Regions from separate parts of the Homo sapiens genome. Here region 1 is linked to region 2. Evidence: fine-mapped expression QTL. A gene starts in region 2. The other region holds a variant in brackets. All regions are shown on one strand. Distances are between the middles of the regions.

What was found. PIP is the estimated chance that this variant, and not a neighbour inherited with it, causes the effect. A credible set is the group of variants that fine-mapping cannot tell apart.
Region 1: its variant is the best candidate, but not a certain one, in a credible set for the expression of LGI1 in tibial nerve (GTEx, PIP 0.64).

What each region holds. Positions count from the first base shown.
Region 1 is chr10:93,709,117-93,714,498 of GRCh38, reverse strand. No RefSeq gene overlaps it. Among named protein-coding and RNA genes, the nearest start is that of FRA10AC1, 9.2 kb to the right of the region's middle. RefSeq lists a silencer at 1-14. The variant T/ACTTT (reference allele first, on the strand shown) is at 2,760.
Region 2 is chr10:93,754,684-93,760,065 of GRCh38, reverse strand. It overlaps LGI1 (leucine rich glioma inactivated 1), which reads right to left and starts at 2,130. Exons shown (of 8, transcript NM_005097.4): 1 at 1,707-2,130; 2 at 1,235-1,306. The coding sequence starts at 1,921. LOC101927013 (a long non-coding RNA gene) reads left to right here and starts at 2,349. Exons shown (of 3, transcript XR_246160.5): 1 at 2,349-2,585.

The DNA of each region.
Region 1 (5,382 bases), 46 kb after region 2:
CTGGTTGAAAGGTGCCTGGAATCTGCCTTGAAGGGATTCAAAATTTTTCCTTTATCTCTACGCTGGGGTTTGGGGCCTAGTCTTGCAGCCTAGTTCACATTTCAGCTCAGTTACTAGTTGTGTGACCATGGAAAAGGTAGAGGTGACTGAGTTGGGGCATCAGTTCCAACTGATGGCAGGCGCCTAAGAGGGGCCTCTGCTCTGTCTCAGAAGTGGGGTTAGTTTGGAGCAGAAGGTAAGAGTTCAGTTTTTGTCATATTAAGTTGGAGACAGCCATGAGGAGATGTTAAGTGAGGAGGTGACTATGGGAGTCTGGAGCTCAGTAAAGACGTCTGGGCTGGAGGTATTAATATAAACTGGGACACATTGGCATGCAGATGGTCCTTTGAGCCATGGAAATGGCTGATAGCATAAGATAGAAAAGAACAACCAATCCCAGCCCCACAGAACAGCAGGGGCCTGAGAAGGCAGTCTCTGAAGAAGAGAACTGAGTGTGGGGACATGGAGGCCGAGAGGGACTACTGGCCTTACTCTTGCCCTCTAGCCACTCCCTGTCCAGTAACCTGGGGTCAATTCAGCTGCTACTTAATTTTTGCCATGTGAGAGGGCAGCACCCTATACATAATGGTTCTGGTCATACACAGAATGTTTTCAACAGCAGCAGCACGACAGCATGCTTCTTCTTCTTCTTCTTCATTATTATTATTATTATTATTATTTGAGACGGAGTCTCCCTCTGTCACCCAGGCTGGAGTGCAATGGTGTGATCTCAACTCACTGTAACCTCCACCTCCCAGGTTCAAGTGGTTCTCCTGCCTCAGCCTCCTGAGTAGCTGGGATTACAGGCGCATGCCACCATGCCTGGCTAAGTTTTGTATTTTTAGTAGAGACGGGATTTCACTATGTTGGTCAGGCTGGTCTCAAACTCCTGACCTTGTGATCCGCCCACCTTGGCCTCCCAAAGCGCTGGGATTACAGGTGCGAGCCACCACGTCTGGCCGACAGCATGCTTATTGTCAGAAATTTTGCTAAGTAGGATAGGATGCATAAGAACACTGCCAAGTAAAAAGCAAATCTGCACTTAGTGAGGACAACCTTTTATTTAAAAAGATTACTACAGGAGAGAAAGGGACTATTGCAGTAGGGGAAGTGTACTATTGCAATGGGGAAAATACTGAGACCTTAAGAAAGGGACTGTCTCTTGAACAGAGAAAAGTAACCAAGGCTAAAAACAACAGGGTGTGGGAAAAGGGAATGAAAGGGTGGCCTGATGGGATAGTAGGCCATACAATGTCTTACTCTGAGGCCAGCCTGTTCTCAGGATGGGCTGTGTGCTGGCTCAGGCTGGGAGTGGGGGTGGGCCAAAGTGCAGGGGCTTAGGGGAAGGAGAGAAATTGAATCAAAGTTTGGTTAACAAGCATTTTGTTCAATTGCTCAGTGGGGACAAGCAGTTCAGCTCATCATTTATCAGGTAAGGAATGAGAATTTGTTCGGTCTGTATCTAATTTTGCCATAGGTTAAACACAGGGCATCTGTGCATCTTATCTAAGTCATATGAGAAAGAGTCGTTCTGATGCAGAGCAGATGAGTCCCAAAATTGGGGCTTAGCAGGGGAGGGTTCTTGGCTGCACCCAGGAAAGAATTCAAGGGTAAGCTGGTGGTTTTAGACAGCAACTTTTATTGACACAGCAGGTTCCAGCATTGGCAGCAGCAGCAGAGGTACCAATGGCAGTGTGCCCAGAGTAGCAGCTCAAAGGCGAGTCTGCAGTCATATTTATACCCACTTTTAATTACATGCAAATTAAGGGGCAGATTATGCAGACATTTTTAGGAAAAGGGTGGTAGTTTCCAGGTCATCAAGTTGTAACTGAAAGGGGCTGTAACTTCAGGGTGTTGCCATGGCAATGGTAAACTGACATGGCACACAGGTGGGCGTGCCTTACGGAGAGGTGCTTCTGCTCTGTCCCTCTTTTAGCTAGTCCTCAATATGGTCCAGTGTCCAAGCACCACCTCCAGAGTTGAGTCCCACCTCCTACCTCAGTTTTTTGCAGTAAGCTGTTTTCTAGAACGTGCAAAAAAAGGTTGGTGTGGGGGGATGGGAGGGGTTTACTTTACCCATCACTGTCTTCCAGGAGCAAAGGGCTTCAGTGAAATTCAATATTGTCAACGTGCTCTGGGATGTGAATTCCATCCCTCCAGTCTGGGTGACACCTTCATCTTCTCAACCAGCACTGATATTCCTGCCCAGGAACTTAAGAACTGCCCCTTGCTGTGGTCTGGGTCTCAAGGCTCTTTTCCTGGGAGCTTAAGACTTTTGACTTTTCCCTTGAAGGTGTCCACATGCCTCCATGCCTGGCTTACCTGCAGCCTGTCTAACCCCCAAGAGATGCATCTGAGACAGCGTCATAACCTCTGCTTCCAAACCACCATCGCTAAAGGCACAGTCCTGAGGGAAATGAATCATCGCCTTGGAAATTTGCAACCTATGGGCTGAATTCAGCTCACAGAAGTGTTTTTTCCACAGGGTGTTTTGCTTTGATTTTTAAACTTGAATTAGATGCCTATATAAAAAATCAGGATATTGAATCTAAAAATCCAAATTTCTAAATCTAAAAATCCAAATTTCTAACTTCTCCTGAAAAGTAGATTGCTCCAGCAGTTCTGGCCTGTGTTTCTATTGTATGCTCCTACACTGTTCAACAAAAGTTCTGACAATAAAATTTGTTATTTAAAAAGTTCTATTTATGAATACAAGTATT[T/ACTTT]GAGTGCTGTTACTTTTATACAGCCTAAGTGAGGAGGAGTACAAATTCCATCTTCTAATCACCACTGTTCCGTGAATCTATTCAGTCTTTTATATTTTCTGTGGGTGTTTAAGTATTTCTATTTCCTACCACCAATTGTCACTTTCAGTACTAGGACAACTAGCCAAAGAGATTTTAGTTTCGGATAATTTGTTAATCAAGGCATCATTTAGAAAAATTACTTACTGTTTATTTCGAATTGCCTGACTACATAATAATCATGACATGTATCCTTAAACACATGACCTACTTCACTGTACATTTTACTTGATCATCCCAGCACACTGTCTGCATGGTCAACTTGGTGTTCATAAACTGTGAAATCATGTGATATGGTCAACTCCTACTTGGAGCTTGCTTATACCTTATATAGAGAGAGGGGCTGTGGGGCATCACTGGTGAGTGTGGGAGGCCTGAAAGGAAGTCCTATATCTCCCTCTCCTTTGGACGCAAAGGCAGCACAATTTGGAGCCCAGAGTTAAACTGTGGTTTCAGCATTGTGAACACAAGTGTAAAGTCCTGTCTCTGAAGCCTTTTCCTGCTCTCTCTTAGGATTAGGGGCTCCTCCCTAGTGTCCCCATAGCTTTCTGAGCCTGTTCCTATTACTGCCCACCCCATTGTATTGTAATTACTTGTTTCTGTGTCTGTGTCCTACCTAGAGGTGAGTCTTGAAGATGGGAATGATGTCTTTCCCATGATTATAGCCCCAGGCCCAGCGAGGCCTTGAGGAATGATCTAGAGACACAGCACTCTTCAACCTTGATTATTACAGTAGGTCTCCCCACTTTGCATTTTCCTAAGTGAAGCATGAAACCGTCATACCTGCAGATATTATATGACAGAAAATAACAGCATCAGTTTCCCGGTGATGTTTAGCATTCCTGGTTTCTGCCTCTCATCTCATCTGACCCGGTAAGTGTCTCCCTATCTCTTAATCACAAGGCTCCTTATCCACAACTGTCTCAGAGAGGGGTTTACCAGACATCCTGTCTCTGTTCTCATCTCCTGGGAGCAGGCCAAAAATGACAATCAATTCATTTGGCTAATTGGTATACTGCTGTCTCTCCACTTTTGCTTCCCAATGTCCATTCCAGGCACAGAATTTGTGCAGTGCAACCTCTCTGGCAGCCTGCTCCAGCCATTTCCACAAGCAAGGGCTTGACCTTTGGCCAGCTTGCAGATCACTATTGGGCTGTGTCTCTATTCAAGGACCGAGCTTTACCATGCAGGTGTGGAGCTACCTTCTTCCAGATCTGAGCTTATAAATATACAGAAAGTGCAGGCTGACCTTGCCAAGTGTTCAAGGCCCGGGAACTTTCAGTCCTTTGGATGCTGACTAGAGTCTTTCTCAGCATTTACAGAGCTCCCGCAGGCCTCTGTCTCAATGCCTACAGGAAATTTGTCTTTGAGTATGTAAGCACTTCTGTGGCATAATTTCCAAGGCCCCAGAAAATTCCACCTATCCACTTCCTAATCTGTTCTTTCACGCCTGAAGTTGCTTAAATCACCAAAACTTCCATTTACCAAAGTTTTAAAAACCCCTAGGAGCAATTAAGTTTTTTAATGTAAACTTTTTATTGACTATAACACTCATACATAAAAGTGCACAAATTATGGTTGTGAATGAACCACTCATGTAACCAATACCAGGACCAGAAACAGAACTTTGCCATGTCCTCAGAAGCCACCCCTTCTTCCTTGTATCCCTTTGTAGTCCCTTCCCCTCCCTCATCAGGGAAACCACTATCCTAACTTGGAACAAGATAGATTACTTTTGTTTGTTTGTTTGAATTGGCATATACAATTATAAGTATTTACCTTGTACAACATCTTGTTTTGAAGTACATATACAATGTGGAATGACTAAATCTAGCTAACTAATATATACATTACCTCACATAGTTGTCATTTTGTTTATTTGGTTTTGTCTTTTATATAAATGGGATTTGTTGTATGTACTCTTTTTCATATGTAATGCTTCTTTTGCTCAGCTCAATACTCATGAGATTCATCCATGCTGTTGCACGTAGTTGTAGTTTGTTGATTTTTATTGCTGCATAGTATTCCACTGTGCAAATAAACCACCTTTTACTTAACTATTCTAATGCTGATGGACATTTGGGTTGTTTCTGGATTTTTATATGCAAATAGAGCTCTTATGAACATTCTTGTTCAGGTCTTTCAGTGAATACATATACACTTCTCTGTTGGAAATACATTGAGGAGTGGAATTGATGAAACCTAGGATAGGCACGATCAGCATTAGTAGGTACAAGGTACTATCAAACATCTTTTCCAAGGTAGCTGTACCAATTTACACTCCCATCACCAGCATATAAGAGTCACAGTCATGCCACATCTTCTCCAACACCAGATTTGTATTTTCCATTTAGCCATTCTGATGGGTGTGTAGTGGTAGTGGTGTGCTTACTTGATATTTATCTGATAACTAGTAAAGATGCGTGCTTTGTTTTATGTGCATTGGCCATTTGGCTATCTTTCGTCTGTGTATTTTCTGGTCAAGTCTTTTGAGAATTTTTCTATTAGGTTTATGTCTTTTATGTAATAGTTTTTTTTTTTTCTT
Region 2 (5,382 bases):
CTTTTAGCTTTTTAGCTTGATATAAAATTTTTAAACCCTACCATTTATAAATGTGTAAGCATTTGGCACACCCTATGCCAAGTGTTTTATCTACTTAAACCTTGGAAGTATGTGTTCTCACTTCCATTTTAAAGATAAGAAGACTGAGGCTTAGTGAGATATACTAATCTGCACAAGACTACATGTTTAGGTTCTATGAGTGGCAGGGTGAGGTTTAAACACTTGTCTCTCCAACGTCCACTCCATGCTGTTTGCCTCTGTGTATGTAACTTCAAACAGCCAAAATGGCCAAGTAAGGCAAGAAAATAAAAAAATAAAAAACAAACAAGTGAAAGGCCTGGGTCCTGAATCATGCAGTTAAGATAGCCAAGACTCAGCTGATCCACAATTGTCTAATTCTGCCCATATCCGTCCAGCTACAAACCAAGTCTGCGACCTGATACCTGAGTCCTGGGAGACCTCTTGACCCCCATGTGATACCGCTGTAAGGACTAGGACTCCAATTGCCAAACATTACACATCAGAACAAATTTTATGTGTTCCATTATGCCTGTGAACAGATCTGATTTCTTAGTCAAATATTATTTTTTTGAATATTTTCAGGCATAGACTGAGTATGTGGTTCCCTTGTGGCCAACTCAAAACATATAGCAGAGAGTAATCCTTTGCACTATCCTATATTAATATTTTCTTTCCCTCCTTGTAATGGAACTAGTTATAAATTAGATGAGATTAAAAAACAGTCTCTTGAGAATTAACATTTTAAGGAATTACCTAGAAAGAGCTGAGGTGTTTTTTTTCCCCACATGGTAAATCATACAGAGTAGCAGCCTGCCCCAGATCCCCGGAGACAACATCTTGAGCGCATATGTTATGCTGGGTTCTGTATTGACTAATTCAAAAACTCCAGGGCAAAAGAACCCAAGTTCCCAAGTTAAAAATGAAAGTAAAATAGTGGAATGGAATTGGGATCATTGTTGCAAGATTCCAACAACTTCATAAATAGCCATTAAAGTAGACAGCATGACAGGTTAACAGATTTACCATTGTAAGAATCAACCTGCACTGTTGGTGTGAAGTCGCAAACAAACCCATCTACCTCTCACTTTACGGATATTCTGTTTTCTCAGAAATAGAATCACATTTGACAAAATTAATATTGAGATCATTTTACTAGAAGGCTTATCCAAATATATGCCATATTAAAAATAGTCATGATATAAATATTTCTCACAAGAGCTGCAGCGATGGCGTGAATAAAAAACTCCCTTCTGAGATTTCAGTAAAACCAGATCTCACAAAGGATCTGAAAGAAAACAAAAAAGAGAAAACAAACAAACAGACACACACAAAGAGACACACACACACAGAACAAACCTTATGTTAATCCGGTTTAGCATAACAGTGACTATTTTGACACTATTTTATGAAGTACGATACTATTCCTTCCCAGATGAAGTAAGAGAAATGAATCGGCTACAGGTTTCTCATGATAATGTTCAGGGCTGGGGGTATCTAAGCATGTTCAGTAGCAGCTAAAAAAATCAAAAATTCTAAATGCAGCAAATGTTAGCACTGTCAAATGGCCAAGCATGCAAGAGGAATCTCTCTCTCCATGCCCTTCTACAAATACATGCAAAGCCCCAAATCCACCGGCTGGAATTTTTAAATCGTAAATTAGATATCAAAATGCTTACGGGCCTTACAATGAGATAACATCAGGAGGAACGGTGCGTGGAATGGATCTGGCATTCTCACATAAAGCATTATCTTTGGTACAAGTACACACGGCAGGGCATTTTGGCTTCGCTGGTTTCTTCCCCTCAGTCAGCAAAAGCGCAGATAAGAGACATAGGAAATAAGCAATTCTTTTCAGGGGAATGCAGGCATTTCCCATCCTTTTGCTTCTTTCTGATTCCATGCAGTCGAGAAAATATCCCCAACCATGAACAGGGCTTCTGGAATTCAGATGGTGATTGTCTTGCTCTAAGAACAGGTCACATAGGAGTCCACCCTTTTCCTCTGCCTCTGTATCTCTGCTTTTTCAAAACAGAGACCTGCAGCTGATTCGTGAGCTTCTCCTCGCTCCAGCAATGCACTGCTCGGGGGAAGAGACCTGTGAGGTACTGTGAGATGGGAGGGATCCAACTGCTGGAGGAGAGAGCCGACTTGCATCACCACGAAAACACTGAGCACAGACCAGCCTTCGAAGGCAAAGTGAAGTGATGTCACAGAAAATAAACAGCTTTCTGCTTTCACCGGGAGGCCCTTTAATTGTTACCAAAAATAGGACGGCATTATGTCTTATTAGTGAGTGGGTGGGCGGGTGGGTGGGAGCAGTCATCTTGCATAGGATGTCGGCAATCTCAGAAACCTCTGGGAGTCTGCTTTTCATGTAGCAAACAACCTAGTAAGAAAAACTAGCTTTGGAGCCAGCCCCGGCTGGAAAAAATGAAGCTAAATGAAACTCTCTCCACAATATTGGGCTAAAACCTTTTGATGTTTCTTGCTGAGCCTACCTGGCTAATGCCATCAGTGAAAGACAAATCAGAACAGATGAAGAATGTGACTTTCAGGGGATGAATGTGAGTACATACTTTTCTGACACTTATTAACTGTCATGAATGATTGATTTTCCTATCCCCCTGGGTCCCCCACGTAATTCATTCTCTCCTTCCATGACAAGGAAGGGAAACAGAAGTGCGGGACCCTCTCTGTGTATAATCCACCTCCCTCTCTTCTCCCACCCTCCCTTCTTTGGCAGTAGCACCAGAAGCCTGGAAGGAACTCCCTGCCAGCAGGAGGCGGCCAGCTCTAGCTTCCTGGGGCTTTGAAAAAGGCCTGGCTCAGCCCCGAGGCTGTGACATGGTGGGGGAAATGCTGGACTGAGAACCAGACACCTGGCTTTGAGAACGCAGGTCTGCTGTGAACTTGCTGAATCTATTCTCCTGTCTGTAAAACGGGGATGATAGTAAAGACATTCTGGAATTAAATGAAAATGATAGGCTATGTTACTCGTGTACTTGATGTGAGCGGATGGGCCCTTGGAAAAGAAAATTCATTTAAAGAAGCAATCAAGAGCCCCTGGCCTTGGGGTGGGATAGTTTAGTCCAAGAGAGTAGGAAGACCCTTGGGATGGAGGAAGATGAGGAAAACAGACCCCCGGTTATCTCACTATGGCGAAGGCGGCCATCCTTCAAGCTGGCACGAACAGCCTGGGATATCAGTCCACGTTCCTTTCTCCTCTAGCTTCTTAGACTGAAAGTATTAAAAGGACTGCTTGAGCAAAGGCGATTTTGACATAACCTCATTCTGCATCAGAGCTGAAAGCATTGCCATTCTACCCTTTCGCTCATGTAGCTGGCCCCATGCTAACTTCAATCCCTTGTTCAGTTCTCTGTAAACTCTTTGCGGGGGACAGTGCCATTCACGTGCATTCTCACATTTGATAACTGTCTGTTTACCCCAGAAGATTGCAAGGTCCACGAGGTTAGAGACCCCGCTAGGGAACCCAGGGCCTGTGTAGCATTGTGCATGTAGTGGGCAACCTGGATGGCTATGCCAGCAACAGCAGAGTGTACAGTCCATTCATGGTCATGCCCAGCCAAATAAACTTACAGTTGCACCTTGCAGTTCTAATAAAGAGATCTAACCTAGTCAAGGAAGTCAGGGGCCAATTCCCTGAAGTAGCAGTGATTGAGCTGAGTTCAGAGGTAAGGAGGAGTTACAGAGAGGGTTCGTGAGAACACTCCAGGTAGAGGGAACGGCATACATAAAGTCTGGCTCATGATCTGCAGAGCAATGGGACACCTCTGTAGAATCAGGCAGGGGAGTGATATTAACTGGTTTGTGTTTCAAAAGGACCAGTAGGTTATTATCACTAAGTCAGTTTTTGTGGGGTTGTAAATACTGTGTGTTGTTTTTTACGGAAGGGAAAAAGAAAAACTCTTCGTTGACAAGAAGTCATGATTTTAAAGTGTATTCTACGAATGCTTCACTGTCAAGGACTCTGTGGAGGAGGGAATGGAGGGCAGTGTTTTTAGAAACTGTGACCTCTGCGCAAGCCTCACTTTAAACAGTAAAAGTGTCACTTAAAAGTTGGCTGCAAGTCGGGTTTTTGTAAATTGAACCCTGCTTCAAGTGCCTAGTGGAAACTTGCTCCGTAAAATAATTATGTGGTAAAAGTTTTATGGAGGATTGTTTTTATTCAAAGTCACCCTCTAAATCAACTGACTTGTAAATGATGTGTTCTGTAACTACAAAATGAAGACATCGAGAAGATTCAGGGACCTCAAAGATCCTGGATTCGATCCCTGCATATTACAGATGGAGAAACCGAGGTACAGAGAGGACACACAGAGACCACCACTCTGCATGGGGTAAGCCCCATGGCAGAAACTTGGTTACAATGACTAATGTAATCCATCAGGCTAAGTCACTCCCTGTGTTTCACTTTCAAATGTTTCAAATCATGAAGATTGCTTGACTAGCTGTTGGCTTTGTGGTATGAAGACACAGCCGAAGAAAGGGTGAGCGGTCTTTTTCTTTTGACTTGGTAAAGCTAGGAAGGCAAATGAATGAGGGGAAGAAATCATATCCATACTATTCACTTTGCAGCTGTATTTATCTGGCAGTTCAGTTTGTCAGTTCAAGGGGGAAAAGGACCATTGGGGAGGGGAGGGGAGGAGAAACTCTAAGGACAAATTACAATGGGCATTCTGAAAAGACAGTAACTTTTTATTTTTCTATGGCATTTAAAACCCAGACTTGAATTCTTTATTCAATTAAAAACACCCACTAAGGTCAGACAAAATTTAACCATGTAATGCAGGATGCTGGCGGCCTTTTTGGGAGGAGAAACCACTTCCTGGCTCCAGAATTGGATCTGAGGAGAGACTCGGGGAGATGAGGGCAGTTCGCTGCATTGAAGTCTTGAGAGGCCTGAAGAGGAGGCCCCATTGCTGATAATGCTTCCCATCTTACTGCTCCAGGAAGCCCCAGGGAGCACAGAGATGATGTAGGAAGCAGGAGGTGGAAGCTTAGGGGTTTCCACCATCTTGGAGGCCTTCAGATAAGGTGTGGCCACCCACTTGTGGATCACAATAGGGACCCTGGGGAGAGGGGCTTGGAAAGGATTAAAGCAGAGTTGGAAGGAGGCCCAGGGAAGCCAGGAGGCCTAGCTGAGGCAGGCTCAATGCCCAGTCTGAGCTGTAGAGGAGTAGCTGAGCTCTGCACTTTGCCAGCCATATGACCATGGGCCGATTTACCCTTCCTAAGTCACAATTTTCTCCTCTGTAAAACGAGGATAATAATAGTATGTATCACATAGAGTTGTTGAGAAAATGAAACATGATAATGTATCTAAAAGTGCTTATTGTGCAG